Linked DNA regions of Homo sapiens. The protein of the gene in region 2 purifies or fractionates together with the protein of the main gene of each other region. This does not show direct contact. Each region holds a gene or a part of one and is shown on either strand. Other genes may lie near its edges.

Evidence for each region.
Region 1: the proteins of NLK (region 2) and FAM222B purify together in Homo sapiens (affinity purification with mass spectrometry; 2 studies listed by BioGRID and IntAct, with this or other methods). This does not show direct contact.
Region 3: the proteins of NLK (region 2) and FAM222A purify together in Homo sapiens (affinity purification with mass spectrometry; 3 studies listed by BioGRID and IntAct, with this or other methods). This does not show direct contact.
Region 4: the proteins of NLK (region 2) and SHANK2 purify together in Homo sapiens (affinity purification with mass spectrometry; 2 studies listed by BioGRID and IntAct, with this or other methods). This does not show direct contact.

What each region holds. Positions count from the first base shown.
Region 1 is NC_000017.11:28,754,506-28,762,947, reverse strand, and holds the end of FAM222B (protein FAM222B), read left to right. Parts: intron 1-791; exon of another isoform or gene 792-874; coding exon of another isoform or gene 875-962; intron 963-3,071; coding exon 3,072-4,678; 3' UTR 4,679-6,968; downstream 6,969-8,442.
Region 2 is NC_000017.11:28,164,232-28,172,673, forward strand, and holds part of NLK (serine/threonine-protein kinase NLK), read left to right. Parts: intron 1-4,216; coding exon 4,217-4,426; intron 4,427-8,285; coding exon 8,286-8,387; intron 8,388-8,442. UniProt on the Homo sapiens protein: Serine/threonine-protein kinase that regulates a number of transcription factors with key roles in cell fate determination. Positive effector of the non-canonical Wnt signaling pathway, acting downstream of WNT5A, MAP3K7/TAK1 and HIPK2.
Region 3 is NC_000012.12:109,737,024-109,745,465, forward strand, and holds part of FAM222A (protein FAM222A), read left to right. Parts: intron 1-986; exon of another isoform or gene 987-1,467; intron 1,468-1,882; exon of another isoform or gene 1,883-5,190; intron 5,191-7,077; 5' UTR 7,078-7,123; coding exon 7,124-7,205; intron 7,206-8,442.
Region 4 is NC_000011.10:70,466,110-70,472,775, reverse strand, and holds the end of SHANK2 (SH3 and multiple ankyrin repeat domains protein 2), read left to right. Parts: 3' UTR 1-4,922; downstream 4,923-6,666. UniProt on the Homo sapiens protein: Seems to be an adapter protein in the postsynaptic density (PSD) of excitatory synapses that interconnects receptors of the postsynaptic membrane including NMDA-type and metabotropic glutamate receptors, and the actin-based cytoskeleton.

The DNA.
Region 1 (8,442 bases), 590 kb from region 2:
TTTTTTTTTTGAGACGGAGTCTTACTCTGTCACCCAGGTTGGAGTGCAGTGGTGCGATCTTGGCTCACTGCAACCCTGCCTCCCGGGTTTAAGCAATTCTTTGCCTCAGCCTCCCGAGTAGCTGGGATTACAGGCACCTGCCACCATGCCCGGCTAATTTTTTGTATTTTTTTAGTAGAGACGGGGTTTCTCCATCTTGGCCAGGCTGGTCTTGAACTCCTGACCTCGTGATCCACCCACCTCGGCCTCCCAAAGTGCTGGGATTACAGGCGTGAGCCACCATGCCCAGCTGAGAAAACTTTTTTTTTTTTTTTTTTTTTTGAGATGGAGTCTCGCTCTGTCACCCAGGCTGGAGTGCAGTGGTGCAATCTTTGCTCACTGCAACCTCCACCTGCCGGGTTCAAGCAATTCTCCTGCCTCAGCCTCCCAAGTAGCTGGGACTACAAGTGCGCTCCACCATCCCAGGCTAATTTTTTGTATTTTTAGTAGAGACAGGGTTTCACCATGCTGGGCAGGCTGGTCTTGAACTCCTGACCTCATGATCCACCCGCCTCGGCCTCCCAAAGTGCCAGGATTACAGGCATGAGCCACTGCGCCCAGCAGAAAACTTTTTTTAAGAGTTAGGCTTAAGTCTGGTATGTGAGGTAGATGGTGCTGTATTCCCAGAATGATACCCCTTTTTTGTTCAATATACTGTACTCATCTTTGGGGTTCTTCCTTAACAAAGCTACTGTAGCCTTGTGGCCACCCTCCCTACCCTCATTTCACTTTATTTCTGAATCCTTTGACAGCCCTCTTCACCATTTCAGCATCAGTGGAGGCAGGACAAAGAAAACTAATCAATGTGGATAAGTGTCCCCTTCCATACTCCTGAATGAGGTCAAGCTTCCCCCTTGCCTCTGCTAAAAAAAACCTCAGAGTTGGTACTAACTTGGAACAAAGGGACTCTTCTACTCATCAAGGTACTATACGACTTCTACTTGGATTTCAAGGAGAGAAGCCCACCAGCATGGAGGTGGGCTAGGTTTAAAGCACTGTGCTAGGAGTATTATATGAGATTATGACCAATAAGACACATAGGTACAGTGGTTGACCAAGGCAGCTTCTGTTGGAATTCTGATGTCTTGAGTTTAGGGACTTGCTCTCAATCAGTGATCCCAGACTTTTTTGCCAGTATTTGAAAGCACAGACCTGTTTTGGGAGGTGGGGATGCCTGGCTCTTTTTGCCCAGATCTGCTTGTGAGCATGGGCCCAAATCTCTCTGCCCCTCCTGACTTGAGCTTTCTTTTCCTGCTTCCCAGAGCAGGAGTTGCTAACCAGCATTATCACCAAACAAAGAGAGCTGTACCCATTTTCCTTCTAATATGCTCATTAGCCTACCTTTGTTCTAGGTGATGCCCAGTGATGTGACTTTGAATAGAGTCTCCTTTGGGCCAAGGCCACCTGAGGCCACAAGCTGGGCATTCAGTCAGATTAGTCGTTGGCCTATCCTCCTGCCTTTTGCAAGAGGAGGAAGTAAGGAGAGAGTCGGCTAGCTGAGCCTGGGCTTCCTGCCAAGCCACTTCTGCTTTGGGCAGTCTGTGTACTCATTCAGCAAGCATTTATTAGGCACCTTTTGTGTATACTCAGGGGAGACCCTCCCTCAGAGACGAGAGAGTAGAGCAGAGCCCCCTTGCAGGAGGTTGGCATCCTTAAAGAGCCCTTGTTCTCAGAACCTTTTCCTTTTTGACTGGAAGCCGGACATCCGCTGAGCCCCCTGATGGGAGGCAACAGGAGATGGGAACAAAGAGACTGTTAACATTAATGAGGCACACCGAGTGGGCATTTCCGCAGTCTCCAAAGGCAGGCAGGTTTTTCCTCTTTCTTTTTGGAAAATGACAGCTGACATGGACCAAATACAGACTATTTTTGGCTCTCAGGACTGAAAGGACTGAAAGATGCTCTGAATCCTTTCTTCTCAATTCCCTCCCTGCTGCCCTGTCATTATTATCTTCCTTCTCAAGCAAATAAATAAAGCCTTTGATCCTCATCCAGTCGGGCATAGAGTAAACTGTAAACAAAAGTGAACTTGTGACATGGGGAAGGGGAGAGATGTTGGCAGCTTATTCCTCTGCTCCTGAAAGGAAGCATTCTGTCTACTGTTCAGGGTGCCCACCCAGTGGGCAAAGCCCCCCAGCTGCCAAGATGCAAGGGAAAGCTGATCCCTCATTGGTCCCTGCAGACTGAAGAGTCGTAGCTCTGGGTACCCTCTAGACTGAAGGGCCACCATGGCCCTGACAAGGAGCTTTGCTTAGAACCTACCCCCAAGCCACATGGGCTGGTAGAGTTCCAGACCCTGCATTTCTCTCTTTTTTTTTTTTCTTTTTCTGAGACAGAGTCTTGCTCTGTCGCCCAGGTTGGAGTGCAGTGGTGCGATGTCGGCTCACTGCAACCTCCGCCTCCTGGGTTCAAGCAATTAATCCTCCTGCCTCAGCCTCCCAAGTAGCTGGGATTACAGGTGCTTGCCATCACGCCTGGCTAACTTTTTGTATTTTTAGTAGAGACGGGGTTTCGCCATGTTGCCCAGGCTGGTCTTGAACTCCTGACCTCAGATGATCCACCCACCTTGGCCTCCCAAAATGCTGGGATTTACAAGTGTGAGCCACCGTGCCCAGCGACCCTGAATTTCTGTGTAGGGGGAGAACTCTCGGTTACCTCTCTGAGAATTGGCCAAATTCTGGTTCTGCAAGATATGAGACTTTGAAAGATGCTTTGCTGTTCTGATCTCTACTTACCTCATTTATAAAATGTAAATGATGATAGTGCCTGCTTCTACAGCAATAGTGAGGATTCATTGAGATGGCCTGTCATCTGGCAGAAGGCCTGGCCCACTATAAGCACTTACTGAACATTAGCAGTGCTTGTTAATGTGAAGACTGAAGCTGGGTCTCGAATGAAGGCTACAGATGACAATCTAGTCATTTCCCCACCCCACCCCAGGCCCTCAAAAGGGGAATCTGGAAGGGCTGTTTGCCTTGGCACTGATGAGCTCCCTCTCCCTCTTTGCTCTCCTTCCCATTCTCTCTCTCTAGGGGACACTACACAGAAAATGAGAACTGCTCACTATCCTACCCCAGCCGAATTGGATGCGTATGCTAAGAAGGTCGCAAACAACCCACTGACTATAAAAATCTTCCCCAACAGTGTGAAGGTTCCCCAGCGGAAACACGTTCGTCGTACTGTGAACGGCCTCGACACATCAGCCCAGCGCTACAGCCCCTACCCGACACAGGCTGCCACCAAGGCAGGCCTGCTTGCCATTGTCAAAGTGCCAGCCAAAAGCATACTCAAGGACTTTGACGGCACCCGAGCCCGGTTGCTCCCTGAGGCCATCATGAACCCCCCAGTGGCACCCTATGCTACTGTGGCACCCAGCACTTTAGCCCACCCCCAGGCCCAGGCTCTGGCCCGCCAGCAGGCCCTGCAGCATGCACAGACCCTGGCCCATGCCCCTCCCCAGACGCTGCAGCACCCTCAGGGTATCCCGCCACCCCAGGCACTGTCCCACCCTCAGAGCCTCCAGCAGCCTCAGGGCCTGGGCCACCCTCAGCCCATGGCCCAAACCCAGGGCTTGGTCCACCCTCAGGCCCTGGCTCACCAGGGTCTCCAGCACCCCCACAATCCCTTGCTGCATGGAGGCCGGAAGATGCCAGACTCAGATGCCCCCCCGAATGTGACCGTGTCTACCTCAACTATCCCCCTTTCAATGGCGGCCACTCTGCAGCACAGCCAGCCTCCGGACCTGAGTAGCATCGTGCACCAGATCAACCAGTTTTGCCAGACGAGGGCAGGCATCAGCACTACCTCAGTGTGTGAGGGCCAGATCGCCAACCCCAGCCCCATTAGTCGCAGTCTGCTCATCAATGCAAGCACCCGGGTGTCGACCCACAGCGTCCCCACACCAATGCCTTCATGTGTGGTCAATCCCATGGAGCACACCCACGCGGCCACCGCCGCGTTGCCTGCTGCAGGTCCTGTCAACCTGCCCACAGGCATCTCTCGCGTCCCCACTGGCTACCCTAGCGACCTCAAGCCAGTCACCTGGAACCAGCACCAGCTGGCCCACCTACAGCAGATGTGCAGCGAGGCTAGTGGGACGCCAGCCCCTGGCCTGACAGGCAAGCATGCGGCAGGACGCGAGTTGGCAGGGCCTGGCTTTGTGGGCAAGGCCCCTGCCTACCCGCAGGAACTCTGCCTGGCGCAGTCCTTCCATCTGAAGCCACCCCTGGAAAAGCCGACCCCATCCCCACCAGTCAACGGCATGGCAGCCCCATTGGCCTACCCCAATGGTCACTACTTCCAACCCCTGTGGAACAACATTCTGCCCACTCCCAATAGCGACAGCTCGGGGTCTCAGGACCTTGCCATGCCGTTCCACGGTGGGCAGCCCACAGGTGCACCCCTCGACTGTGCGGCAGCTCCCGGGGCCCACTACCGAGCAGGGACCGGGGGCGGTCCAGTGGCAAGCCAGAACAGCTTGATGCAAACAGTGGATTACCTAAGTGGGGATTTCCAACAGGCCTGCTTCCGAGAACAGAGCCTGGCCATGCTGAGCAAGGCCCACCGAGCCCCTGGCAACCGAGCCCCCGATCCCACAGAGAGTCGAAGTCTTCATATTCAGCACCCAGGGTATAGATAGGTAGCCCTGCTGCCCTCCACGTGCAACACATCATACATCACCCTCCTAGGTTTAGTCTTTTAAGTAACTGGATAGTTTCAAAGTTTCACTGCTCCAGTGTGATCATTCTTAGATGTCTAAGAAAGGGAATTTGGTGGGATCTAAGTGGGGACAGAAGGGGTCCTCTCGTCCTCCCCTCCAGCAACTTTTGGTTTTATGTTAGAACCTAACCCTAAGCCCAGGCTTTTCTCTCCACTGACTGCCTGTCAGCTAGTCTCTCCACCTTGGCCATTTCCAGCCAGCTCCCACCCATCTTTTCTTGAATCTCTTCCTGTTTCCCTTAGGACGACTGAGGTGTGGGCTGACGGAATGCCCTAGTTGAGGTAGTATAGGTGCTCAGGCCCCTAATCCAGACCTCTACCTGTTGCTACCCCCCTTCCCCTCCCTCCAGGACTAAGAAGCAAGATTTCCCAGGTGCTCTGAAAGCTAATTACTTACTCATCGAAGGATCTCAAATCAAAGCTGACCCAGTCTTCATATCCTTCAAGTTCCTTTCCATTCCTCAAGGCTTTGTTTTGTGTCTATATTGATCCCACAGCCACTGCACTTGCCCTTGCCACACTTGATCTCAAGGGCATCTTGGAAGTATTTGACCATTTCTTGAGATATGGGGGGAAAAAGTCTTTGTATTGGCATCTTGGTTCCAGACTCCCCTTTCCAAACCTAGAAAAATACAGTGACCTTTGAGCATACCCAAGATCCCTTTCTCACTGTTGCCTGTCCCCTAACTCACCTCCCCACAGCCCCTATCCTTTCCCCCTCAACAAAAACAAAATCTACCTTACTTGAGGAATTAGGTAGGTAAGGAATGATCACATTGGAGTTTGGGATTAAAAACACCAAAAAAAAAAAAATGCATTTGGTTCTCTCTACACTGGCTAAGAATATTGCTCTACACTGTAAGTTTTAAACGTTACGTTTCTGTATGAATGTAGTGTGGGTTTGAGTAGCATTGTGTGTGAGTGGCCCCACAGGTACATTCACCCTCTAGTGCAGCCCCTCAGTTTAATGAAGGAAAAAAAAACAAACACAAAGCCTTAAGCTCTTTGAGTACTTCCTTTACCAAATGAGCATGGTTCTAACACCTGGAGCTGGGCCTACATTGGAAACAAGCCCCTCCTGCCCTCTGTCCATTCTTAGAGCATACCTTCATCCACTCCATGCTCAGCACGTCTCATCCCAAGCGACAATTAGTTGGCTAGAAACACTTTTCTGTAATTTTAAACTTAGACTGTTTTGTTACAAATTTTTGCACCATTCTGTTAAAGATGCAGAATTGGGCTTTTTTATTTTTTACAGATGAAATAAGCCCTTACCTTTCCTCTTGTCTCTGGGGAATGTCAGCTGATGGTTCTTATTTAAGGTTTTGCATTTTGTTCACTATCCACTACTGTTCGTTAGCCAGAAATTCTCTAGTGATCTGAAGCAATGTGACTGAAGACCAGTTTTAAGTTATGTGTTGGCAAGTTGCCTTATATTTAAAAGGAAAAAGAAAAAAAAAAAAGCCTGATTGTGTTATGCCAAATGATAGCAACATGAAGTCCTAATTTATTGTTCCCAATTGTTTTCCTGCCGTCTGTGAACACTGGTACCTCCCTGTCCTGATCCCCCAGGAGCACCTGTAGCTTCTGACTCAATGCCTTCTCCGAAGGTGTTGGCCGCCATCTCACCCAGGGCCCTCTTCCAGTTCCTGCTTTTCTGAGTCAGATTTAAAGAGCACCACTGTCTTCCCCCTACCCCTTGCTTGATCTCCAAAGCAGATATTCTTGCTGTATTTTTTTTTCCTCCCCAATACCTCTCCCTGAAAGGTGAGCTGCTATTTTAGGAAACTGGACCAGACACCAACTTGGGGGCTTTAAGTCAAACAACCTCAAACCCATCTCTTCCTGTGTAGGGGTGCAAGCCTCTGAAGCTCTCACTCCCACCCTTAGTCTGCATGGAAAATGTACTGTGATCCCCCTGCCCCCAACTGCCCTCGCCTTTGGTGTGAGATGTTCCTTCTTTCGGAGTTCAGCCTGAGTCCCTCTCCCCTCTGCCAGCCAACCCCCAGCCAGCAATAAGGGTCCAAGCCAGGGCCTCCTCTCCACACTCCCTGTCTCCATCCTACACTACCCTAGGGAATACCTGGATTCCCCATTCTATCCACATACTGTAGCATTCATTCTCCATCTCTCTCACCTCACCTGTGGTGGTTTATGGGTGTGATGGGGTTTTTAAGATTATTATAAACCAGTAAAAATAAGAAAACCTCGCTTTCTGACCTTGTTCTATTCGTTTAGTGCTGTGAATGTTTGAGGTAACTTTTTCTTAACAGTTTCTAACATACCTCACTTCATAGGAGTAATTCCTAATTTTTAAAAGGGGTACCCCTGTAATATGCATCCCACCCAGAAGCCGTCTCCAAATCCATTATTTAAGGCCAGGTGCTATGGTGATTGTAGACAGTTCTTCAATGAAACCCTGGACACAGGGTACCCGGCTGACAGGCCCTCTCCCTGGGCAGGGCTGCTGTGGGCTTACTGTGAAGTTTGAGGATAAGTGTGGTTTGCTGTCCCTCACTGGAGGCCCAAAAGGTCCTGCCACTTGCATTCCAAGGGCCATAAGTCATTGAGAAATGGCGATCTGGTTGTTTTGTTTTGTTTGAGGCGAAGTCTTGCTCTGTCGCCCAGGCTGGAGTCCAGTGGCACGATCTCGGCTCACTGCAACCTCCACTTCCCAGGTTCAAAGGATTCTCCTGTCTCAGCCTCCTGAGTAGCTGGGATTACAGGTGCCTGCCACCACGCTCAGCTAATTTTTTGTATTATTAGTAGAGATGGGGTTTCACCATGTTGGCCAGGCTGGTCTCGAACTCCCGACCTCAAGTGATACACCTGCCTCGGCCTCCCAAAGTGCTGAGATTACAGGCGTGAACCACCATGCCCAGCCAAGAAATGGGGATCTGGTTTGCTAATAACCCAACCTAAAACTTCAAACCTGCCTTCTTCCACTTCCAACACTTTGGAAATTCTGAGGGCCTCTGACAGAGGTGAAGGTGATAGGCACTGTTATCTGCAATGTAACTGGCTCCTCTTGGTGATTACAGTTTTCTTATGTTGAATTTTGGATAACTTTATTTTTTTGTCTGCAGAGGAAAAAAAAAAAACACTAAGTGATTGCAGCCAGGCACAGTGGCTCATGCCTGTAATCCCAGCACTTTGGGAGGCCAAAGCAGGTGGATCATCTGAGGTCAGGAGTTCAAGACCAACCTGACAAACACGGGGAAACCCAGTCTCTACTAACAATACAAAAATTAGCTGGGCGTGGTACCACGCGCCTGTAATTCCAGCTACTCAGGAGGGTGAGACAGGAGAATCGCTTGAACCTGGGAGGCGGAGGTTGCAGTGAGCCGAGATTATGCCACTGCACTCCAGCCTGGGCGACAGTGAGACTCCCGTCTCAGGAAAAAAAAAAAAAAAATGAATTAAGTTACCCTCCTCTTCTGTTGAGCTTGGGTTTGAGCTAAGATGTAATGGAAGGAAAAGTTGATTCTGGCTGGGTGCGGTGGCTCATGCCTGTAATCCTAGCTCTGGGTGGCTGAAGTGGATTGCTTGTGCCCAGGGGTGAGACCCTGTGTCTTCAAAAATTGTAAAAAGTTGGGTGTGTAGTCCGGGTACAGTGGCTCACGCCTGTAATCCCAGCACTTTGGGAGGCCGAGGCAGGCGGATCACCTGAGGTCGGGAGTTCAA
Region 2 (8,442 bases):
TGGTTGCACATGCCTGTAGTTCCAGCTACTCAGAAGGCTGAGATGGGAGGATCACCTGAGCCCAGAGCGTGAAGGCTGCAGTGAGCTGTGATCACACCACTGCACTTCCACCTAGGTGACAGAGTGAGACCCTGTCTCAAAAAAAAAAAAAAAAAAAGTGAAAATGCCAAACCAGAAAAGGGTAATATGCATCTATCCAATGTATTTCCATAATGTATAGTAGCCAATTCTTAATTATTCCTCTGAAGAGGAATTGATTACAGAATTATATTTAGTAGTTCCAAAATTTCAAGTCATCAGTTTCAGTTTTACTTCTCTTCCCTAGTACAGCCATTGTCTTTCATTTAAAAAGGGGCTTGCAAATAGCAAAGTCCACATATTTGTATTTCCCTACCTCTAATACAGATGTGTATTGGCAGAACTCTTGAATAGAGAGAGGTCCACTATATTTTTCCTCATAATAGAAATTGGAAATAAGGGCCTTTAACTGCTATATTTGAAAAGAAAAATAAATTTTTAAAATGTTACCCACTTTAAAAGTAATCAAGACTATCATTATTACTTAGGTTGCTGGCGGTTAAACTAAGTAATAAAACCAAGTGTATAAATAAAATTCATTTTTTATTTTAAATGATTTCTCTGAACTGTAGGTCAGTTCTCTTGAAAAGCTGGTGGATTATACTGCTTATGAATGAAAATTCTCCCTTCATTATAGCCTTGAAGAACCCTCACCCTTATTTTAACTCAAGAAAGATGAAAACCTATTTTTCATATTTTCCCTAAAAATAGCTGATGTTGTAATTCAGTCTTTTGTTTCCACAGAGAAGTTAATTGCCACCAAAATCTACTAAAGTATTCCTTCTATAGGTTATTGAGTTTTTCCTGCCACCTTTTCACTTTTTAAAGAGAACTTGCAACCTATCCCCATAATCGTTTTTTAATTAAAAAAAAAATTTAAACCTTATAGTTAGAAATTTTTTTGTCCTATTCATACCTAATCAATCTTACGACAGTTTAAGCCAATTTCTTCTTATTTTGGTTTTTGATTGGAAGACTTCACACAGGATTTTGTGCAGGACCTGTCATGTTTGATGCCATTAACTGCTTGAAGTTCATTTTCCAAATTGTCCGTTATGGTTTTATAACCTTGGACTGTATGAATGGGCAACTAAAGGAAAATGCCATTTGTGAATACACAACACACAAATCAGAACAAACAAATTTTGCTCCACTCCTTTGACTCATCTTATGGGCCTACTTTTAAAAAGCCAGAATAGAGTCTAGGCTATAGACACTAGTTCTTTCTTCTCAAACATACAAATTCATTGAAGATCATTATAACAAAACATTTTTTAAAAATCAGTATCCTTCCATATCGTGAATGTATTTTGTTTCCTATTAAGCACAAGATGGATAATTTTGCTGGAATTTTTTTAGTTATCTGATCATGTAAGCTTCCTATTTTGGACTCAGGTTGTCTTCCAAATAAGTTGCTAAAAATGACGAAATCATACTGATGTTTTTAATAAGGGATTTGCTTTATAACAGAAGGCCTTTTTTTGTTGGATGGGTGGTTGGTTGGTTTTTCTCATATAAATATGAGAAAAAAATTATGTTCTTTCCTTTTGTTGGTTTGGTTTTTAAAAATATCCTCAAGAGTCATGGCCAAGTAATAGAGTTTTTAAAATATTATATGTTATTTTGGCCGGGCGCAGTGGCTCACGCCTGTAATCCCAGCACTGGGAGGCTGAGGTGGGCAGATCACTTGAGGCCAGGAACTTGAGACCAGCCTGGCCAACATGGCAAAACCCTGTCTCTACTAAAAATACAAAAATTAGCCAGGCGTGGTGGCGCATGCCACTAGTCCCAGCTGCTCAGGAGGCAGAGACACGAGAATCACTTGAACCTGAGAGGCAGACGTTGCAGTGAGCCGACATCATGTCAGTGCACTTCAGTCTGGGTGACAGAGTGAGACTGTCTCAAAAAATATATATATATATATGTTATTTGAACATATTTGATGAACTCGGGCTTTTGTTGTTATGTTATATGGTTTATCTGTATAGTATGGAAAATTTTCCTGCTTTCTTAAGTTGTAAAGATGGTGGCTTCATACTGATTCATTCCCACATACACATCTGAATTCATTTGATGTAACCAGACATAGTAGATTCAAATCAGAAAGAGGGGATTGCCAAAAATTGGGGGATAAATTTTGTTTTCTTTAGAACGGGGTTTTCAGATTTTCTTTTTAAGCTGCCGGAACTCTTTTTCAAATAAAATCTTATTTGGGGACTTCAATTTAGAAAACAGATTTAAAATCATATTTTATCACTTGCAATATTGTGACTTGTAAAGTTAATCAGTGAGAACACTGGAGCTTAGATGGCCATTACTATCTGATCTCATCCTCAGTGCTCCTAGTTGTGTTTTGATTGCCCAATATCAAGAAAATTTTAATTCCTAAAGATAAGTAGTAGTTGCTGGTGGTGGCACGGCTGCTGTTTATTAATAGCTCACCTTGTAACCCTCAGCATACTTTTCAGTTGAGCAGAAATAGCAAGAAAAGATTTATTTCTAAGTTTGTATAGAAGTTAACCTGTCTTTATTATTTATTGCTGTATCTCCAGATTCTAACATACAGTCTGTAATATAACAAGTACTAACTTAAATATTTATGGCATGAAGAAATGAATGAACCCCATAGCATTAGTATTCTACCATATACTGCATTTTAACATATTTATACATTTGAGTATGAATTTGTATTTTAAATAGATAGGTACATGTGAAGTTTGGATATAATATTCATGGAATGCCTAAAGTCAGAAGTAGATTCAACTGGAGTCAGTTTGAAACCCATTGCTTTAAAGAAATTCACATATATTTCATAAAGACGACAGACACAGTCTCAGCTAAGGAGACCTTCAAGATACACCCCTTTATCTTATGATATCTTCCTCTCTAAACTAGTCTTGAAAGTAATTGGTTTTGTGGGGGTTTTTAAATTTTTTTTAAAGATAGGGTCTCAATCTCACTCTGTCTCCCAGGCTGGAGTGCAGTGGCACAGTAATAGCTCACTGTAGCCTCAAACTCCTGGGCTCAAGCAGTCCTCCCACCTCAGCCTCCAGAGTAGCCGGGACTACAGGTGCACACCACCACGCCCAGCTTTTTTTTTTTTTAATTGTTTGTAGAGTTGAGATCTTGTTATGTTGTCCAGCCTGGTCTTAAACTCCTGATCTCTCAAGCAGTCCTCTCAATCCCTGGGATTACGGGCATGAGCCACTGTGCCTGGCCAACAGTTGGTCTCTAAATCAAACCTACAAGTATGCATTTGGCCAGGTGCAGTAGCTCACGCCTGTTATCCCAGCACTTTGGGAGGCCAAGGCAAGCAGATTGCTTGAACCCAGGAGTTCAAGACCAGCCTGGGCAACATGGCAAAACCTCATCCCTACAAAAAAAAAAAAAAACCCACAAAAATTAGCCAGGTGTGGTAGCACATGCCTGTAGTCCCAGCTACTCAGGAGACTGAGGTGGGAGGAGCCTCAGATCGATCACGCCACTGCACTCCAGCCAGGGAGACAGAGTGAGACCCTGTCTAAAAAAATAAATAAAGTCGTTTACGTTCACCTAGTTTTTTTTGCTTCGATTATCAACTGAAAACAGACATGTTTTTATTGATAAAGATGAGAAGAATATTTTTAAGAAAATGATGTAAGTTTGAGACTTTTTTCCTCTCTTAACCAAATAAAACCAGATTGTATATTGACATAAATATACTATACCTATATCATTAAAAATGTTCCAGAGTGGCCGGGCGCAGTGGCTCACACCTGTAATCCCAGCACTTTGGGAGGCCAAGGCAGATGGATCACCTGAGGTCAGGAGTTTGAGACCAGCCTGGCCAATATGGTGAAACCCCTTCTCTACTAAATAATACAAAAAAAAAAAAAAATTAGCCAGGCGTGGTGGTAGGCACCTGTAGTCCCAGCTATTCGGGAGGCTGAGGCAGAAGAATCCCTTGAACCCAGGAAGCAGAGGTTGCAGTGAGCTGAGATTGTGCCACTGCACTCCAGCCTGGGTGACAGAGTGAGACTCCATCTCAAAAAAAAAAAAAAAAGTTTCAAAGTTCAGTGCCCTATCAAAATTTTGATGTTTTGTTTTACTCTTTCATTTGTATTTGCTTGATAATGTTTTGATTGCCTTTTCTGTCTAGATTTGTGATTTTGGATTGGCCAGAGTGGAAGAATTAGATGAATCCCGTCATATGACTCAGGAAGTTGTTACTCAGTATTATCGGGCTCCAGAAATCCTGATGGGCAGCCGTCATTACAGCAATGCTATTGACATCTGGTCTGTGGGATGTATCTTTGCAGAACTACTAGGACGAAGAATATTGTTTCAGGCACAGAGTCCCATTCAGCAGGTATGATTTCAATTTAAGGCTTTAGTTGCAATTCTATTGCAGATTTGAAGGAAAATCCATCTTGCACATGTGTCTTGGGCTTATTCATTATACTGTCTAATTTGCTTTTAGGAAATTCAGGTTCACTTAAAATTCAGAAAGTTATAAAGTTGAAGATTACAAAGAGATTCATTTTGTAACTTATGAGCCTTTAGAGGGAGTATTGAGTTTATTTATGTATTTATTTATTATTATTATTATTTTTTGAGACGGAGTTTTGCTCTTGTTGCCCAGGCTGGAGTGCAATGGTGCCATTTTGGCTCACTGCAACCTCCACCTGCCAGGTTCAAGCGATTCTCCTGCCTCAGCCTCCCAAGTAGCTGGGATTACAGGCACGCTCCACCACACCTGGCTAGTTTTTGTATTTTTAGTAGAGACAGGGTTTTGCTGTATTGGCCAGGCTGGTCTCGAACTCCTGACCTCAGGTGATCCACCTGCCTCAGCCTCCCAAAGTGCTGGGATTACAGGCATGAGCCACTGCACCCGGCCAGTTGACTTTATTATATGCACTGATGCATAGCTGTGAGCTCTGCTATGACAATTTGCACAGGTATAATCTTCAGTTGTTAGAAGGCCTCTCTTCCTTCTAAGTGAATGGCTCTGACTTGAAAATGTATTGGTGACTTAATGTACTTACACTTTGTGCTTAGAATATAAATTTTTAGTGTGTTGATTTCTTGAAATCTGAACATTTAGGAAAATTTCTAACCTTTATTATTGGACTAAAATATCTAAATATGGCAGAGAACATCAGGAGATGATTAAAATATAATTTCCTCAGAGAATCCTTTAGAAGCCATTCATGTTACTTGAATTGTCTTTAAAGCTAATTATTCACTAATACACATATTGACATAATTACTGGGTATTTTGTATTAATTTGCTTGCATGAAAATAATGTAGTAACTATGAGCTCAGGCTGTGAAATCAGATTGGTGGGTTCAAATCCTAGCTGCACCACTTATGTTAAATCTTGGGTAAGTTACTTAACCTCTGTGTTCCTTTTTTTTTGCTGCTTCTTCTTCTTTTTTTTTTTTTTTTTTGGCCCCTAAAACTGTTCTGAGGATTGTTGTACAATGAAGTAGGAAAGCTGAAAACGGGGCCTGGCACATAGTAAGCACTCTGTAAATGTTTGCAATTACGATGGTGGTAGTGTGCCAGGACTCTAGGGATACAGCAGTAAATAAGACAGCATTGTTCTTAACCTTTGTGAAACTTTTACATGAGACAAAAATAAATATGCAAATAAATATGATTCCAAGTAATGGAAGTTCCATAAAGAAAAATGTAGCCAGGTTAGGGACAGACAATGGTGGCAGAGCAGAGCAGGCACTAAAGGATTCTCTGAGGATATAACATTTCACCCACATAAAATAAGGCAGTAAGATGCTGGAGAAATGTTCCAAGAAGAGGGACAACCACCATAACAAAGCCCCTGAGGCAGGAACAAGCATGGCATGTTGGAGGGAAGGTATGTGATGGAAGACGCTGTAGGAAATGAGGTCAGAAAGTGAGAAAGAACCTGGCCATGGTGACATGATAAAGCCTTAAGATTTTATTCTAAGTGTGATAGAAAACTTAAATGAAGGTTTTGACCAAAGGAATACTAAGATTTGATTGATGACATTTTAAAAGATCACACTGACTACTGTGTCTTTGTAAATAATTAATGCACTTGACCAGACAGAATTATTTCTTTTATGCTTTTTCTACAAAGAATTTTTACCTAATATGTTAGAAACTATATCTGCTTTTATCAACATTTAAATTTTTCTATGCTATACGTTTTAACTGTCTTTTTTAAAGTTTACATCTTAAAAATTGATTCTGGTGTTAAAAAAATTATGTACATATAATACTTAATCTAATGTTGGGTACTTTTGACAATATTCACTTTTCAATTTCTTCAGAAAGTAAAGTTTAACAGACTTAACCTGTAAGACTATCATATCTGGACATAAGCTGTCATAAAATGGATGTGACTACTACCTTGCATACAGAAAAGCTTAAGTAAAAAATAATAAGGAAGTATTCAAATCCTATATATGGAACAAGAATCTTGAATTGCTGCTGCAAAAAATATGTGAGGGAAAGTGTGAAGCAACTGGACTGGAGTTCAGATATCCCTTTGCTAGAGAAATACATAGATCTTCAGTTTGGCAGTCTGACATAGCCACTGCAGGAGAATTCATGTCTGTCTAATTGTTGGTGTGTGTTGGGGTGAGAAATGAAGATCTAAAATAGGAAAAGGCTCTAACTTCTAATGGAAGTCATTATTTCCTGTTGTATTTTCTCTGTATCTTTGAGATTTAATTACCCTGGTACTAGCAGACATCATAAAAGTGTTTCTCATGTATGGATCTGACCCATTTTAGACAACTTTCTGAATGTTTCAGTTTGTTTTTATAAGCTAGTCATTTCCTTCTGCCTTTAGTGTGGTTGTTAGAGATCCAAAAGTATCACCTACACACTTTTCCCAAAAAGCTTTGTATAGAGATCTTTATTTCTGTGGAAAGCAAGCTTCTCAAGTATCTCCATTAACCTGTAGGGTGTTGATGCTGATGGCTACCCCATGGTTTAGATAAGTGCAGAAAATAGTGCTTTATATTCGGCAAGCCCAGAACCAGGAAAAGAAGTGTTCTCTAGGTAAGAATTTCCCATCCTGGAAGGATCCAAATGAAATGTTATTGCTAATTAGGTTATGAAGTTAGAACAATTGTGACACTACAGAAAATTGGTAAGATAGTTTGCTACCCAAAGACTTGTTTGCAAGAAGACTGTTTTATTGGTCTCTTTTATTGTGTCCAGCTAGCTAAATGTGGTCTTATGTGGTGTCATATTTTTCTAAGTGTCACAGTTTTCTGCCAGCGTAAGAGATTTCTAGCATGACTAGAATGTAAAGGATGTGTACTGGCCCAAGCATGGAGAGCTTAGCTTTCATTTCAGGTGTGAATATTTTCAGTATTTATTAAATCACAGGTGTCTGATTTGTGGATTAGCACCTTGGTGAGCCTGAATCCATTTGAAGCATCAGAATCCATTCATTAACTGTTTGGAAAGAATAGTCATTAGGCATCAACAGAAGAGGAGTTCAACTTTGCAAAGATCTTAGATGCTATGGTATCAAGAAAACAGGACAGACATGCAGACTCCCAAATTGCTATAGCCTTAGAATGTCATGCTTATCAAAACATATTTTCTATATTTCTATCATATAAATAGGAACTTTTAAATAAATAAGTAGGAACTTTTAAATAATAGGATAAATAGGAACTAAATAATAGAATAAATAGGAATAGGATAAATAGAAATAGGATAAATAGGAATGGAATATATAGGATAATCCTATATATAATAAATAATATGTTAAATAGGAATAGGATAGATAGGAACTTTTAAATAATAAATAGGAATAATAACAGGAATTTATTTAAATTCCTTTACATGAGGAATTTATTTAAATTCCTTTACATGAGGAATTTATTTAAATTCCTTTACATGAGGAATTTATTTAAATTCCTTTACATGAGGAATTTATTTAAATTCCTTTACATGAGGAATTTATTTATTTTAAATTCCTTTACATGAGGAATTTATTTATTTTAAATTCCTTTACATGAGGAATTTATTTATTATAAATTCCTAGAAATCTTTTTTAATAGGCCAGAAAGTGAAAGTAGGGGCTCCTGTCAGTTAATCTAGAGCTTGTCTTAAGGTTTTTTCCCCCAGATTTGGTCCACTTCTCTAAGGCTATGATTTAAGAGTAATGAAAAGTTATTTCCATGAGATTACTATCTATCTGTATTTTATTTCCTTGTAGTTGGATTTGATCACGGATCTGTTGGGCACACCATCACTGGAAGCAATGAGGACAGCTTGTGAAGGCGCTAAGGCACATATACTCAGGGGTCCTCATAAACAGGTGAGAGGAGGGGGGAATCTTTTTCTGGTAACCATCTGTTTGGGCAAGATTTCCC
Region 3 (8,442 bases), on a different chromosome or scaffold from region 2:
CAAGGAGAGCCACATGGGACTCCAGTCATTTGACGATTCATCAAACATTTATTATGTACCTTGTATGTCTTGGAGAAGCCCTCAGGAACCCGGACTCCAATTGAAGGTCGAGTTGAGTTTTAAGGGGTAGAGAGCCAGAAAGGGCTTTTGAGCAGTCCTTCTGCTCAAAAGTCCTTCCTGGCTCTTGGGATTGCATGGGCCAAAGCCTGCAAGTGTGCAGGTGAGAGTCTTGTGCAGAGGGAAGCCCACCTCAGGACTCTGGCTGCCAGCCAGAATTGGTGATTGTCACTTTACTTTTTGGTCTCCCCTTTGGCTCAGAACTGCCAGCATCTCTGGCTCTAGTGCCCAGCCCAGAACCAGGCACAATGGAGGGGTGTTGGAGCCAGGCAGGGGACTGGCATCTTTGTCCTAGAAACCAAAGAGCCAGGTATGCTCTGTGACAAGATTTGCAGCATTTTAGAGAGCCCCTGGCCTGCTGGGGTGGGGACAGATACAGTGGTAATTCTGGCAGAAGATGAGGCCTCCTATTCAAGGGGACAGTACCTCCCCAGCCCCCAACCTTAAAAAAAAAAAAAAAAGGTAAAAATCCCCTTCTGGTGCTGAGGCCCAAATGGCAGTGGGAAATAATCACTTTTCACAGGCCCCTTATCCACAGCCAAGCCCTGTGCCAGTTTAATCAGCAGTGCCGGTGTGACTTGAAGAATCCCCGGCTTGAGAGATCAGGAGAGGGGTTAAAGAAAATTACCCTCGCCTCCTCCATGCTAATGTAATCTCTAACCAGATCTGCCTAGCCGCAGCTCAAATTGCTTTTTAGATTAACATTTAATTATTAACAGGGTCCCTTGGAAGGCCTCCGGCTCAGAACAGAGATGGGGGAGGGAGCGGCAGGAGGGAGGTGGGGATGGGCTTCTACTCTGGCTGCCTTGCTGAGACAAGCGGGGTGGGAGAGAGAGGAAGGAGCAAGGGAAGAGGGGTCAGGAAGGGAGAAAGAGAGAGAGACAGCAGGAAGGAGAAGGGAGGCATCAGGACAGGAGGCAGGTGGAGCTAAGGACAGGGATGTAGACAGAGGAGAGGAAAGAGACAGACAGTGGATCTTCCTGTCGTGGGAGCCCCTAAGGGGGTTGGGGGAAGCTTGCACCTAGATTCCTGAGGACATTCCTGGGCTGGGCAAGGGTCCCTCCACTCTTCCTGGCCAGAAGCAGGTTTGCTGCCCCTCATTATTTAGAGAGGTCTGGACTTTCTGAGGCTTTCTACTTGCTCAGCTCGTGGTGCTGGGGACCAACACAGAGAAGTGACCCATTTAGGGCCACACCACCAGGGTCTGACCCTAGTATTCCCAATCCAGCATTCATTCTCTTCCCCGGGCCCTGGGCCTCTCACCACCATTTCAGGCTCCTATCTGCCTTTGGAGCAGGCTGTGTGGCCAGGCAGCGTGAAGAGACTTGAATTACAGCCAGAGGGATGGAGGTGAGAACTGTGGGAGGGCTCCCTCACCACCCACCTATCCTGCCACCACCCCCAGGAAGGCTGCGAGGCCCTGAGGAGTGGCCAGCATCTCATTCACTTCCTGAAAGGGAATTCAGAGTCTGAACCATCTACTCTACTCCTTGCATGATGAACTGCTGGGTTTTGCCAGCTTCCTATCTTGTCCCTGCTCGAGATTCTAAGTCCCTCAAAGACAATGGCTACGTCTAGAGCCCCTTTGTGTGCCCACAGTTCAGGGACTGCCCCACACCTTGTACACAGCTGGATTAAGTTTGGAAACCAAATGATCACATCCTCTTATGTCCAAGTTAGATGGCCCTCATACTATCAGCTGGTCCACTCCCCATAAAGGTTCATTTGGGAAACAGACTCAGAGAGGTGCTGTGACTTCCTCCAGGTCACCCAGCCAGTGAGAACCCCAGTGCCTGGCCCCTGCCTGGCAGGTACAACCCAGAGGCCTCTGGGGCCAGCTCTCTTCTCTGAACTAGTCCTGTTGGACACCAGGAAGGGCCTGGCATGACCTTCCCCTCCAGGTCACAGCTAGGCTTTGGCCTTGAATGGAGCCACAGAAGCCAGGTGGGTAGCTCTAGGGATTGGAGGTAGAGGAGGAGATGGGGGCTCAGAGGCGCAGCCCATGGCTTTCCCGGGGTCACAATCTCAGGGCCCTGCCGTGAAGCCAGGTGTGTCCTCCTCCTATTCTGCCTTGGGGTCAACCCAGCCTGGCAAGGGGCAGACTGCTGACCTGTGGACACGAGGGAAAGTTCCAGATGCCTGCCACATCAGGAAAATGCTGGAGGCAGAGAGAGGTCAGGAACATTCATTTTTATTGGGAGGTCAGTTCTGGCTAGATGTTCCTTTCTGGCAGGACACTTTGAGTCATTTCCGTCCTCCCAGTACATGGCACAGGGCTGGCCCTCAAAAGATGCTTGGGAAGTGTTTGCTGCCTAAATGAATGAATGGGTGGGTAAGAAGCAAGGCCTGGGCTTTACTCATCTCAGTGTTGTTCTGCCCAATGCTGGCCTCCTGATTTGCGCTCCTTGAATGTTTATGGGATGAATAAGTGGCCTCTGGGAGCCCTTCCCCTCCTCTCACCCCTTCCTTCTGTGATCCCAGCCCCTCCCACAGTAGAATCAAAATGGATTTGGGCCCTGGGGAGAAGCAGACCCTTGCTTCCATCCCTCCCTGCCCAGTTGACTGGGAGCTGAGGGCTGACGGGCCCCCAACCACGATGGAGCTGCTGTACAGTGTGGGGCTGAGGGACTGACTGGCATTGGCATCCTTGGGCTCTGCTATCTAAAAGCTATGTGACCTTGCACAGATGGCCTTCCCTCTTTGTGGCCATTTCCTAAGCTGTGAAATGGAGCCACAGAGGCCACGAGGAGGAGGCGCATGGGCTTGGTACAGAGGGCAGTCAATACATGCTCACCACCGTTAAGAGCCCAAATTGCATGTTGCTCTTTCAGAGCTTCCCCTCCCACTGGCCCGTGGGCTCCCTGACGCCCCCTGCAGCCAGACAGGCGAGGGCGAGATGACAAAAGGCAAGCAGGGCCCAAGCCCCCAAATCCCTGTTCTTTTCATAAAAACAGAGACAGCCTCCTCCCATTCATTGTTCTGCTAAGGCGAGCATCACAGACTCAATTCCTCCTCGGACCTGAAAAGTTCCTTCCTTCCTTTCCCCTCCCCTGTCACATTTCCTTTATCTAAATCCTCAGCTATGAAAGGACACATCGACAGCTGGGGGCGTTATCTGGTGGAGGGGACCTTTTCCTCGGGTGTCTCCGAGATAAGGCGTCTTATCAGCCCCCATGTCAGGGAAGGTGCCAAGCATTCTAATCATTGAGGCATGCGACGTTTTTCCCCTCCCTGCCCCCCCTTTTTTTATTAAAGTCACAAAAGACCTTGAGCTTATAAACAGTCTGATTTGCAGATAGGGTTTCAAAATGAACAGTGCTCCCTGGATGGTGCTTGGCCAGGGGGGTAATGAGTCCAGGCGGGGACTCTGAGAGGCTGGCCTCCTGCAGATGGGATGATGCCAGGCAGGGAGGGGGCAAGATGGGGTCACAGAAAGAACATGAGTGTTTTAGGCACATGCCCCAGTCCTGTCCCTGCCTTGCTGTGTGACCTTGTTTGGGACGCTTGGCTTCTCTGGGCCTAGATCACTTTATCTGACAATAACCAATTCATTGATTCGGCCATTCATTCAACACCTATCTAGTAAATGATTACTCTTGCCAGGCACTGGGGAGAGACAGACAAATAAGACACGGTCCCTACCCCTAAGAAACACAGTCCAGCGGAGGGAGAGAGATGTGAAAATTGGCAATTACACCTTGGTGTGATTAGAGCAGAGATGGTGGATATCTAGAGGAAGGGAAGGGTGAGCCAGGGTCTGAAGACAGATCTGAGTTCGAACGGATCAGGGTCACGGTGCCGTAGGCAGGAGAACCAGCAGGGGCAGAGGTCTGGAGGTGTGAGGCAGCCTGGCTGGAAGGAGGGCCAGGGGGAGCCAAGAGGGAGATGAGGTGTGGTGGGCAAAGAGGGCTGGGCTCCACGCCGGGGCCAGAGAGGTTTTAAGGCCAAGGAGGGGGATTTGACCGTCTTGGTTGCAGATGATGGGGATGATGCAGGAGTTGGAGGTGGTGGTCCCCTCCCCACTTCCCTCCTAGGACACCCCACCACCCTGCCATGTGCCCCCAGTGGCAGGACACAGGGTTCCTGGGAGAATGGGCAGTGAGTTGGGAGAACTGGGGTTGCAGAGAGAAAAAAGTCCCTCCTCTTTAAGTGAAGAGCATCTCTCAGGCTGCCTGTAGCCCTCCAGAAGCAAGGAATGGGAGGATGTAGGCAGCTGCCCTGGCAAAGCTGAGCCAAAGCTGAGGCCTACACTTGGACACCATCACACCCTGAAAACCCCTCCCAGCTCCCAGAACTGCCTGGCATCCACCATAAGAGCACGCTGACAACTAGAGCCCTGCTGGGAAGGGAGCTGATGGGGTCCCAGGAGGCTCCAGAATAGGCGACCTGCCCCTTCCCCAACAATTGCAGCCCCCAGCCCACCCTTTTTCAACTGCAAAGCATGTGGGATGTATGGCCCAAGGGACATTAGGGCACCTAGAGAAGGGCTGGACTTCTGGACCCCAGTAAAAGGCTGGAGATAGGGCCGGGCATGGCCAGGACTCTGGAAGAAAGTGACCTGGAGGTACCCACAGGGATCATGGAGCCACTGTTACAGGCCAGAGAGGGTCATTAACCCAGCCGGGGTCACACAGGGTGTGCTGGGAGGCAAGGAGGTTCCAGCCTTCCAGCCCAGGTTTCCACAGGGCACCAGCCTCTGACCTCCCTCCTTACTGGCCTGGGTGCAGCCAAGCTCAGTGGTGAGGGGGTAAGTGCACCCAGCCACTCCCTGCCTGGCAGGCCACTGCTCCCTGTGGCTTGGGTTTCCCATTTGTGGAGGGAGAGGTCTTGGACTGGCTTTCTCCGGATCTCCCTCCTTTCCCCCAACCCCTATGTCAGAGCGGCTAGAGATGGACTCTGCCCTGGAGCAGGGGCCACAGAAAGAGGCTGGGGCAGGGTGAGGGAGGTTGCCACAGGCCTCTTACCTTCCAGATTGCACATGATTGTGAGTCTCCATAGACCATCCGACTGTGCGTAAGAGGGTGCCTGTAAGTGCAGAGGAACATGCCATGCAGCAAACACATATGTACATAGGTGAGTGTGTACCAGGGTGTGTGTGCACACCCAGCCCTCCCTGTGCACATGCACGGCGTGTCCTCCAGGGCTGGTGTCCAAGGCTGTGGTGATGGCAGGCCCGAGTCAGGCCTGCTCCCGCCACCTGCTCACATTCCAAGTCCCCGAGGAGAGGAGCAGCACTGCCTTCCTGCAGTCAAGGACTTTCATCCCTGCAATAAGCCCCACTTCATTCCCTTTTTAAACTGTATAATTTCTGCCTGATTGTAATGGCCTATTTTAAAATTACCAGAAATCAAAGCCGGGAAGTGGATACTGCAGCTTTTATTGCGTCTCTGTGTTAAGGCTGGCGATTGGGGAGGGGGCGGTGAGAATCACCTCCCCTCCCCTCCATCCTCCACTCTCTCTCTCTCTCGCTCTTTTTTTTTTTTTCTTGAGACAGTAATAGGAGAAAATTGGTTTTGAAACTGAATAAAAGTCCCTTTCAGAGGAAATCATTTCTTTCAGGGTACCTTTGCTGAAAGTAAAATAGGGCATAATGAAAGGTGGTTACGCGATTGTCTTTCATTTACCGAGAGGCCAGGACAGACGGGAGGCTGCAACCGTCTCCGGGAAATACAAGATTGGAATAATTGCGCCGTAACAAGGAGCTTGTTGTGAAATTAGTATCTTAAGAAAGTAGTGAAAAAAGGCTTTTCCTCATGAATACTTCATTATTAGAAGAAAGCGGCAGAATTTAGGACTCCAGACACCTGTTTAGTATTAAATAACTTCCCTTTCTTCCCCTTCAACACCCCCTCTGCTTTCTTCTTCTTTTTTAAAACCAACATGAAGATTGAGGTGATCCAGCTTGGCTGCTCAGGACTGTGGGAGGTCAGGAAGTGGTGGGGACAGGGTGCCCGGGAAGATGGACATCAGGGGTGTCCGGGGTTGAGCTCACCCTGAGACCTGCCTTCTCCTTAGCAAGAAGGGAGGAAGGGACCTCTAGGTAAGCTCCCACCGCCACCCTCCCATTGGGGCCTCACAGGCAGGCCCACTCTGACCCTGCCAGTCAGGGGCTTTGGGCTCTCAGGAATGTGCCTGGGCCTCCTGAAACGTTCTCTGCAGGAGAGTGGGTTTGGGGAAGCTGAAGGCAAGTGTCTGTGTGAATGTCAGGCTCTGGCCGTTGGGGAAGGTACCACACGGGCCTGTGTGCAGCCACATCTGAGCTGCTGCCCTGCGGGGCACAGATCTCTGCCCTTCCCATTCAGGGTAAGGAGCTCAGGCAGCGACAGGGATCTCGGGTCAGGGCAGCCTTGATGGCCCATTGGGGCTGGGCTCAGGGTGCAGCATGGATCAAGGTTCAAGAGCCCCTTGTTCTCTCAGGAAAGCCATCCTGACATCTCCCCTCCAGGGGGGCTATGAGGATGCCCTGGGCGGGAGACAGACCAGTACTTCAGTAACCTGGGACACCCATGTACCCACTGGCATTTCCCGAGCACCCCTCTGTGTAGATGCCCAAGATGACCAAGTGGGGTCTTCAGGCTGACTTGCTTACAGGGGGCCACCACCGGCCGGAAGCACAGCCTGCTGCGGGGCACGGAGGGAGTGAGGATCTCACCCAGTTGGGGGCATCAGGGCAGGCCCCAGAGCAGATGACCCAGATGCCGAGCAGGGCCGGGGCATGTGTGATCCATCAGTCCAGCCCCCACTCAAGAGCCCTGGATTCTGTCCCTTCCCATGAGGCCACAGATGGGCCTCTTGATGCCTCAGGCCTTGGTCCCCTCATTGGTCGAATAAGGGAAATGGGTGTCTGCTTTGAGAGTCTCTGATGTTCTTCGGGGTTGCAGGGAGACTCCCGGGGGGAATGGTGGGAGGCGAACACGGAGCAGCCCCCAAGTGACAGAGCACCCCATCTTCCTCCTGCAGGGACCCAGTCGCAGAGCGCACCCCACTGGGGACCCCCAGCTCAGCCATGCTGGCCTGTCTGCAGAGGACCCAGAACGCCCCGGGCCAACACCTGGCCTGCCCGAGCAAGAGCCTGGAGCTGCGCAAGTGTGAGTAGGACGCCTCCCCAGCCTTTGCAGGGCAGGTCGTGGGCAGAGAACGCCATTCACCCCCCAGGATGTCCACCTACCATGGCCCTGTCGGAAAGTCTCTATGCTCTCTTAGGCCCCCAGGCCTTGGCCCCGGCTGTGCTGCCTTCCTGGTCTCCATCCCCAAAATGACACCCACTCCTTTGGCCAGCTCCTGTGGAGCAAGACTCTCAACTCTGGCTTGACCTCCTTCCCAGCAGCCTCTTCTGACCACCACCATCGCCATGCCCCAACCCCGCCTCTGCAACTTCACCACCATTATCTAGCCATGTGTGTCTCCCTTACCACCATTAAAGTAGGATGACGTGGAAGCAAAAAATAGACAGAATGGGGTCCCCGCTTGAGGCCCATGAGCTGTGTGGTCTTGGGTGTTTCCTTCCCTCTCTGGCCTTGCTTTTTCACTGGGACCTAGACCTGGTGACCAGGGGTCTGTTCTCACTATCTAGGACCAGGATCTGAAACGCTCTGATTTGGTTATTTTTAGCTATCATAATTTCTTTTTTAATGAAGTACTTAGAAACGGAGATTTGCATTAAAATATGGATTTCTACTATCTCTTGAAAAAAACAAAAACAGAGGCTCTGGTAACATAGGCCTGTGTGCCTGTATTGCAGCTATGGTTAGAGCTGAATGACTGCCTCTTTTAAAGGGATGTCTGTCTCCAGGTCACCGCGGTCCCCACCCCTCCCTATTGCTTCTGTGCTATAGCCCAGGATCCGTTGCCATTTAGCATGATGCTTACAATGTGAAAATATTTTTTTTCTTTTAAATATTTATCTTTAGACAAGGGAACATATTCATGTTATGCAACACTTGGAGGAAGGAAGGGGTATATAGACAAAAGCCTCCCTCTGGGCCAGCCACCCGCTTCCCTCGCAGAGGGGGTCCATGTCGTCAGCTTCCTGGGTGTCCTTCCAGATGTTTTATGTGCATCCCAGCAAATATGTATGGAGACGCATATTTTACACACTATCCTGCATCTCACTGTTTCCCTTTGTAATCTATTCTGTATGTCAGCTTCTAAAGAGCTTCCTCATTCTTTCGCCACATAGTTTTCTCTAGCAGGGGTGGCCCATAATTTATTTGGCCAGTCCTCTATTTAGACTGTAACTGACCTGTTGCTGTTACAAGCAGTGCAGTGGTAAACCCTGGATGTGTCACGAGGATGTGGATAAAACTGCAGGGTACATTTCTGGAA
Region 4 (6,666 bases), on a different chromosome or scaffold from region 2:
TCAACCCCACTCCATGGGTTTGTCTCCTGGTACCCAAAGAAATACTGAGTTGTGTCCACAACATGGCTGGGTCTTCAGACCCCTGGCTCACCATGTGGGTGTCTTGGGCAGTTTCTATCACACATGGGACAAGGGGAGGGAGTTTTTCTAACATGGAAAAAGATTCTCAGCCTGCCGCCCAGCATGCAGGTGGCCTCGCTTTGCCGGGTCCGAGAGGCTCCCCGTCAATTTTGCACGGGATCCTAGCTCTTGTAGGCAGACACCAGTGCACTCTAGATACCTCCTGAGACCTCCGTCCTCTGCTTTCCGGGCAGCTCTCACCACCCCAGGCCCCGGCATGAGGCCTTTCCTCAGTCCTGTGGCCTCTCAGAGGACACCTGATGCTCACCTGCCCCTCTTTCTCCTGCACTTGGCTTGCAGTGAGATGCTCCCAGATGCATTTGTCCAGTGCCCCATCATGGGCCTGAAAGGCAGAGAAACTTTTTCCTACACAGATTCTTTTCCCCATCTCCTCCTGTGGTTTGCATCCATGGCTCTTTGGCCATGAGGTTCCTGGCAGTGCTGGGAGTTTGGATGGGATCGTGCCCAGCTTTGCTTAGCTTTCTTTATTTCTGCAAATCTGTTAGCATAATTCCAAGGTGGCCAAGCAGATGTCACATGGAGTTAGTCAAAGCACAAAGTCACGATTCCACAATGGAGGGGAGACCTGGCCAAGGGAGCCAGCCAGCGTGCAACTGCCCAAGCTCCAGGTCTCCAGGACAAGAGCAGTTGTCTGCCATGAGCACCCATCCAGGATGGAGAATAAGGGCTTCTCTGCCTCTCAGAATTCTTTTTAATTGAAGATGTCTTGAGCTCTGCAAAGATCAGAGCAGGTGAGCATCCACTTTGACATGAAGGACAAGAAGACGCATGGCTCATGGCGGGCACATGCGGCTGCCAGTGAGACAGCGTCTCCTCTGGGAGCTGGGCGGGCACAGCATCCTCAGTTCTGTGCCCAGCCAAGGGTGAGCATCTCTGCTGAGACAGTCCTTTTGCTCTCGGAGGCCAGGGAAGATGGTACTTAGAGGCTTTTCCCCTATCGCTCTGGGTGTCTAGGAATCCCACCAGCTTGTCTTAACAGTACAACAGCTTCTTTGAGGACCCAGTGGGTATGGAGTATAGACAGAACCCAGGGTTGAGAACAGAAGGTGGGCGGCAGGATCAGAGTGAAAGCAGAGGCGTGAGGAGAGGAAAGCAGGGAGGTCTCCTGGGCTGCCAGGTCAGCCTCTCTGGCAAGGCTTTCTTGAGCCCCGCCCCTTTCTTTCCCCGGAGTCCCTCCACCCCATAACAATACCTCGAATTTCCAAAAGAGGTCACCAGATGCACATGGGCCGCAAAACACACAGTCAGGCTTCCAGCACATTCTCCCCCATTTGGAGGATACTCGAATGTCAGGTTTTTGGTTTTATTATTATTTCAGAACTAGCTCAGCCCATCTCTAATTATAAAACATGGTTTTGTTTTTTTTTTTTCCTTTTTTTCTTGATTAGGTCTGGAACAGCTCTAGAATGAACACATAAAATTTAGCAATTTAAAATCTTTCTTTACTGCAAGTTTAAATAGTTGTACAGATAGTTTATAAGCACAATATTTTAAGAAAAAAAAGTGGCTGGTCTACTAGGCAGCCTTTGTGCCACTTCAGTGCTAGAAAGTTAAAGAAAAAAAAACTTTTGTGATTTAATAATACTATTTCTGTGGAATAATTATAAAAGTATGACCTTTTTAAATCAACCTTATTTGGATGCATCTGAACCAGCAGAGCTGTGTTATATTTTCTATCTTTGCTAGAACTTCGTCATTGAAGGACAATTTCTTCAAAGTGGTTACAATTCATAATGCAGCAGTTTCTCCAAAAACAAAAACAAAACACACACCACACACACGCGCTTTTCCAGTCACACACCCCTGATGTTGGAACCAAGTTTTTGGACCTTCTGTTCCAAAACCTTTTGCAGGTCAATCTTTGTATTTGAAATGATCCAATCCAACTTGAAGTCAATTGAATATTAAGGCGCTTTACTTCCGTGTGCTTTCAGTTTTTCCATCATGAGATGAATGAGCATTACTCTAGATAAATTTCAAGACAGGATACTACAGGTGGCCTGCTGAGGCTGCCCCATATTTTAGAAAATGTAAAAATGGTGGTTTGGCCATTAATTTGTCTTCCATTTGATGATACCGCAAAATTCCGTGAGTCCATTCCTTTGGCATGGCACTTTCCCTGGGCCTACAGTTGGTATTACCTCTGTGCTCAGTGCCAGGCAAAACACTAGCTCAAAGGAGAGTCAAGGAAACCGCTGGCAGACGATAACCAGTCGAAACTCGTGACTTCGGTTTGTTGAACTTTGGCAGCCAGTTGGTGAGGGCCAGATGTTATTCCCTTTCTTAAAGATACTCCAAGCCACATGCCACTAACCACAAGCAAGCTGGCTGCAAGACTAAAGAGCTGATAACATAGTTTATTTTTACACTGTCTTATTATAGAGAAGTAATAGACCTATCAGAACCTGCACTGACCAACAAATAAACACATGTTGCCAAGATGAATCGGTCTCTATCTCTATCTGCTTATTTTGGTACTGAAAGCAATAGTTCCTCATTCAAATCACCACCCACTGTTCTCCCCCTTTGGGACATGTTAGGACGAGGCCCTATTCCATGCCCCTCTTTAATGGTGGAACAAATGTTAAACTGCTCATCTAAAGATCATGTTGATATTATTCCAGGTTTTAAGATCAACTTTTGTTACATACTGTAATTTAAATAAACTGCATTTACATGCCTAGTTTCTGTAATATTGTGTATACAAAACCCAAATCTCTCAAAATGTAAATTATGTATACCTGCCAAGATACCTTTTCCAGGGTGTCTGCGCACATTTTAAGTTAATTCACATAATATAAAAATTACTCAATGTGACTGTTGATTTGCTGAACTTTACATATCACAAAGTGAATTATTTGTGATACTTTAGTTAATAAAATGGTAAATTTTTTTCTCAGTTATTGAACAAGCAAGCATTATCCAGTTGATCTGGCAATGACTTTTTGTGTGTGGGCCACAATATTGATTTTCCCATTAACAATTTTTTTTTGTTTTTTAAATACTAATATGTTTCACACTATAGTTTGTGTAACAACACGTGTTCGCATTATCTATGTTGCTGTTACTTTTGTGCTTTTATTCTTTTTAGACTTTATAAAAAAAAAAAAAAGCTCCTGTAATTTGCACTTTCTCCCAATCCTTAAATCTCTTGTATGGCAACCAAAATTACTGTAAAAAAATAAATATACTATTGCACTAAGGTTGTGGTTCTGATTGCAAACAAACAGTGAACACTGTCTGAATTAAACAAAAAGCTGCCCGACTTGCAATCTAATGTAGATTATCTCAGGCATTGTGGCCAGCTCTGCCTCTCTAAAACTGACCAGAAAAATCTCTCTCATCGAGTAAACAGGCTCCTGTCACTGAGCTAATCTGCCTTGGTTCCATTTCCTTATTCTCAATTTATCAATGGATACGTGCATGTTATTTCAGAATTATGCAAAACGTCAAAATCTGCTTCTGTGACCGCTGCTATAGGCGTGGAGCTGAGGCTCGGCTTTTCCTTTTGTTCTGGGTGGAAGCAGCGGTGCCGCGGAGGGCCAGCCAGATCCGGACCCTTCCCTTAGGGTCCAGTCTCCCCACACCCCAGCAGGGTGTCTTCTAGCCATAAGGCCAAGGGAGTGGCAGAACTGGGCCGCCTCTCTGGTTGACAAGCAAACCACATGCTAAGGCTTGGAGCAAGAGAGAATTTGTGTCTATTGGCAAAGAACTAAGCCAGGAAGACATGGGCCATCCCTCCGCTTTAGGGAAGCATATTTTAAACCTAAACGTTGAACTTCTTCTTTGGCCTCACCAGTGAAAACTTGTTGTCTTTAGTTCCTAAAGTTTCTTCTACTTTGGCACATTCCCCAGTTGAGCAGCAGCCTCTATGCTTCCACGTTCAGGAAAAATTCCAGTCCTCATATCTTTTGTAGTTCACCCTCAAGCTCTCCCGCTTCACCATCCAATAGTTTCTCCCAAACCTTGGCACCCCCCTAGACTTTGCTTCCAATGGTTTCTTCCAGACCACTTTTCCTAGATGAATATATTCGTTTACCTTACTAGGAAAATTATTGGAAGATTTTTTCTTTTACTTGAAATTGGAGGCATTTTAATAACTGGCGAACTGGAATGTGTTTCTGTATTTGTAGACAACCATGAACCCATGCAAGTAGGTGAACATTCCACAGTGGCTGGGTGACCACAGCAGCTGCATGCAGACAGGACTGCCCGTGCTTTGTGGGGAATCAGAGAATTTCCAAACTTGTTTCTCAGACTTCCGCAGATCTCATCACTTTGATTTCTAATCCATGCTGTATTGGTGATTTTGTTTATCGTTCCTGTAACTTGTTCTACATTCCACAGTCTTTACCGTTTTATGTTCAAAATTACAACAATCCCTGTCCATTGATTCCACTCTGGAACTCTTTGTTCATGCCAATTTTGAAATTTTAATACGAGCCTTCAAATAAACACAGAAAAGAAAAAAAAAAAGGAAAAAAAATAAAGTGTGTGCCTTGGGTGTTTTGAACCTGATCTGCATAAAACCATATTGTATTCAAATGCTGTATCTTTCATGAAAGGATAAATATATCTTCAATGTATTAATGTAGCTGATAAAATAGTTATAGTGCCTTGTTTTCTGAACTGAGAAGCCCATATCAATGCACAACGTAAAGAAAGGACGGTTCGAGCTATGAAATGTTGAGGACACCTACACGTGATTCTGGAGCCTTTCTCATCATAAGACTGTGGAAAATACACAGTCGTTTAAGTTAAAAATAAAAAGTAAATTGAAATAAGATTGTGTTATCAATTAATTTTCCATTAAAAGTGCTCTCTACTGTATCATTTTCAGTATTTTCATTTAATTAAAATACAAAATGTGTTTGAGGATTTTCATGGAAAGGAGAAAAGTTTAACCACAGGAGCCCTGGGCTCTCTGACCTACTCCCCTTGTGCTGTGCCGCCCCCCGGTGGTACTCATTGGTAATGCTTAACGAAGCCATCAATATCAATCATTTCGACGTTTTGTTATAAATATACACAAATTCATTTTTAGTGATTGAGGCCACTCATTGCAGGAAAACTGTTTCCATTTTTCACAAGTGAAAGTGGCAACATGTGTGTTTTTCTTTCGACAAAAAAACGATGTGAGAAGTACATCAGTGTAATTCTTGTCTCAATGCTGTCATGCTCCATTTGCTTTAAGTGCGAAGCTTCCCTGAGCAGCCTCTGCCTTTCTAGAGGATGAGCCTGCGGTGTAGTGAGCATATTAGGGCTGCCATCTGCCTGTGGGACCAGAATAGCCACAGCAATAGTGAGCGTTTGTGGGATTCCGGACAGATGGGAGCGGCAGCAGCCCCATCTTCTCGGGGGCCCCCCCGCAAACAGGCCGCAGAAGTTCTGGAGGCAGAGCACTGCCACAGGCTGTCCTGCCACACACATCTCTCCAGGGAGTGAGGAGCTACTCAGATCCAGAACTCCCCACTGTGCCTGCTCAGCTCACAGACTATTATCGGTGTGGCTATTTACCAGCCAGAAGAGTCCACTGGAATTCAGACTGTGTAGTTTCAGGCAACAATGCAGCCAATAATCCAAGAACCTGCAGGGTGCTCAGGGAGATGTGGCCAAAGCTTCTTGGTCACCCTGCTCCACATGTGCTGCTACCTCCGCTCCAAGTATGAAGCATGTGTCTGAGAGCCAGAGGAGGGGCCCTGGCACTGCTCACAGCCACTGGGTAAGACCTGGCAGCCAGGCCCTAGGCCCCCATGAGGTAGGGACCACGGAAATGGCCCAGTTCACAGGACAGAGTGTGGAGACCCCTCACCAGCCACCTGCATCTGGGGGCCGGCCCCTCTGACGCGGTGCTCCTGGAAGGCAAGCCATCCTGCCATTGCCCAACTGTAGTCATCTCTGCCCAAGATGACTGCAAAAACAGAATTAAGCGTGTTCTCCAAACCCCAGAACCCGGGGAGTGGGAAAAACACATAGCCCCTGCAGCCCTGCAGAGGTGGCCACAAGCACAAGCATTCTGTGTGTATACCCAAGAGGCGGTACAGGTTGGAAACAGCACTCAGTCTACCTAGTGCTATCTGGGACGGGCACCGTTCAGATCACTGCACCCACCACGTGGCTAAAAGCCCTGTGAGGTAACAACTAAAGCCCTATTTCCCAGATGAGGAAACTAAGTCTTGCCAAGGTCCACAGCAAGTGGAGAAGCAGAGGTTGCTGTGCAGCTTCCCAAGTCTATCTACAGGTGACAGAACCCAGCCCGGGGCCTTGGGAACCATCGCTGGCTCCGAATCTGCTCCACCCACAGGGTGCTTCCTCTCCCTGCCCCATCTGACGTCATATGTGCAGGGCTAAGAATTCAGGAGGCGGGGCAAGGGGGGAGTCCCTACCAGCTGAATCACCTCAGGGTTGTGGAAAACGAAGACCGAATTCAGTGGCAATCTGGTTACCTTAATTCACTCCACTGGGATCAGGAGAACCAAGACCTAGAAACCCCTGTTTCTCAGAGAAAGGACCCAACATTTGTAA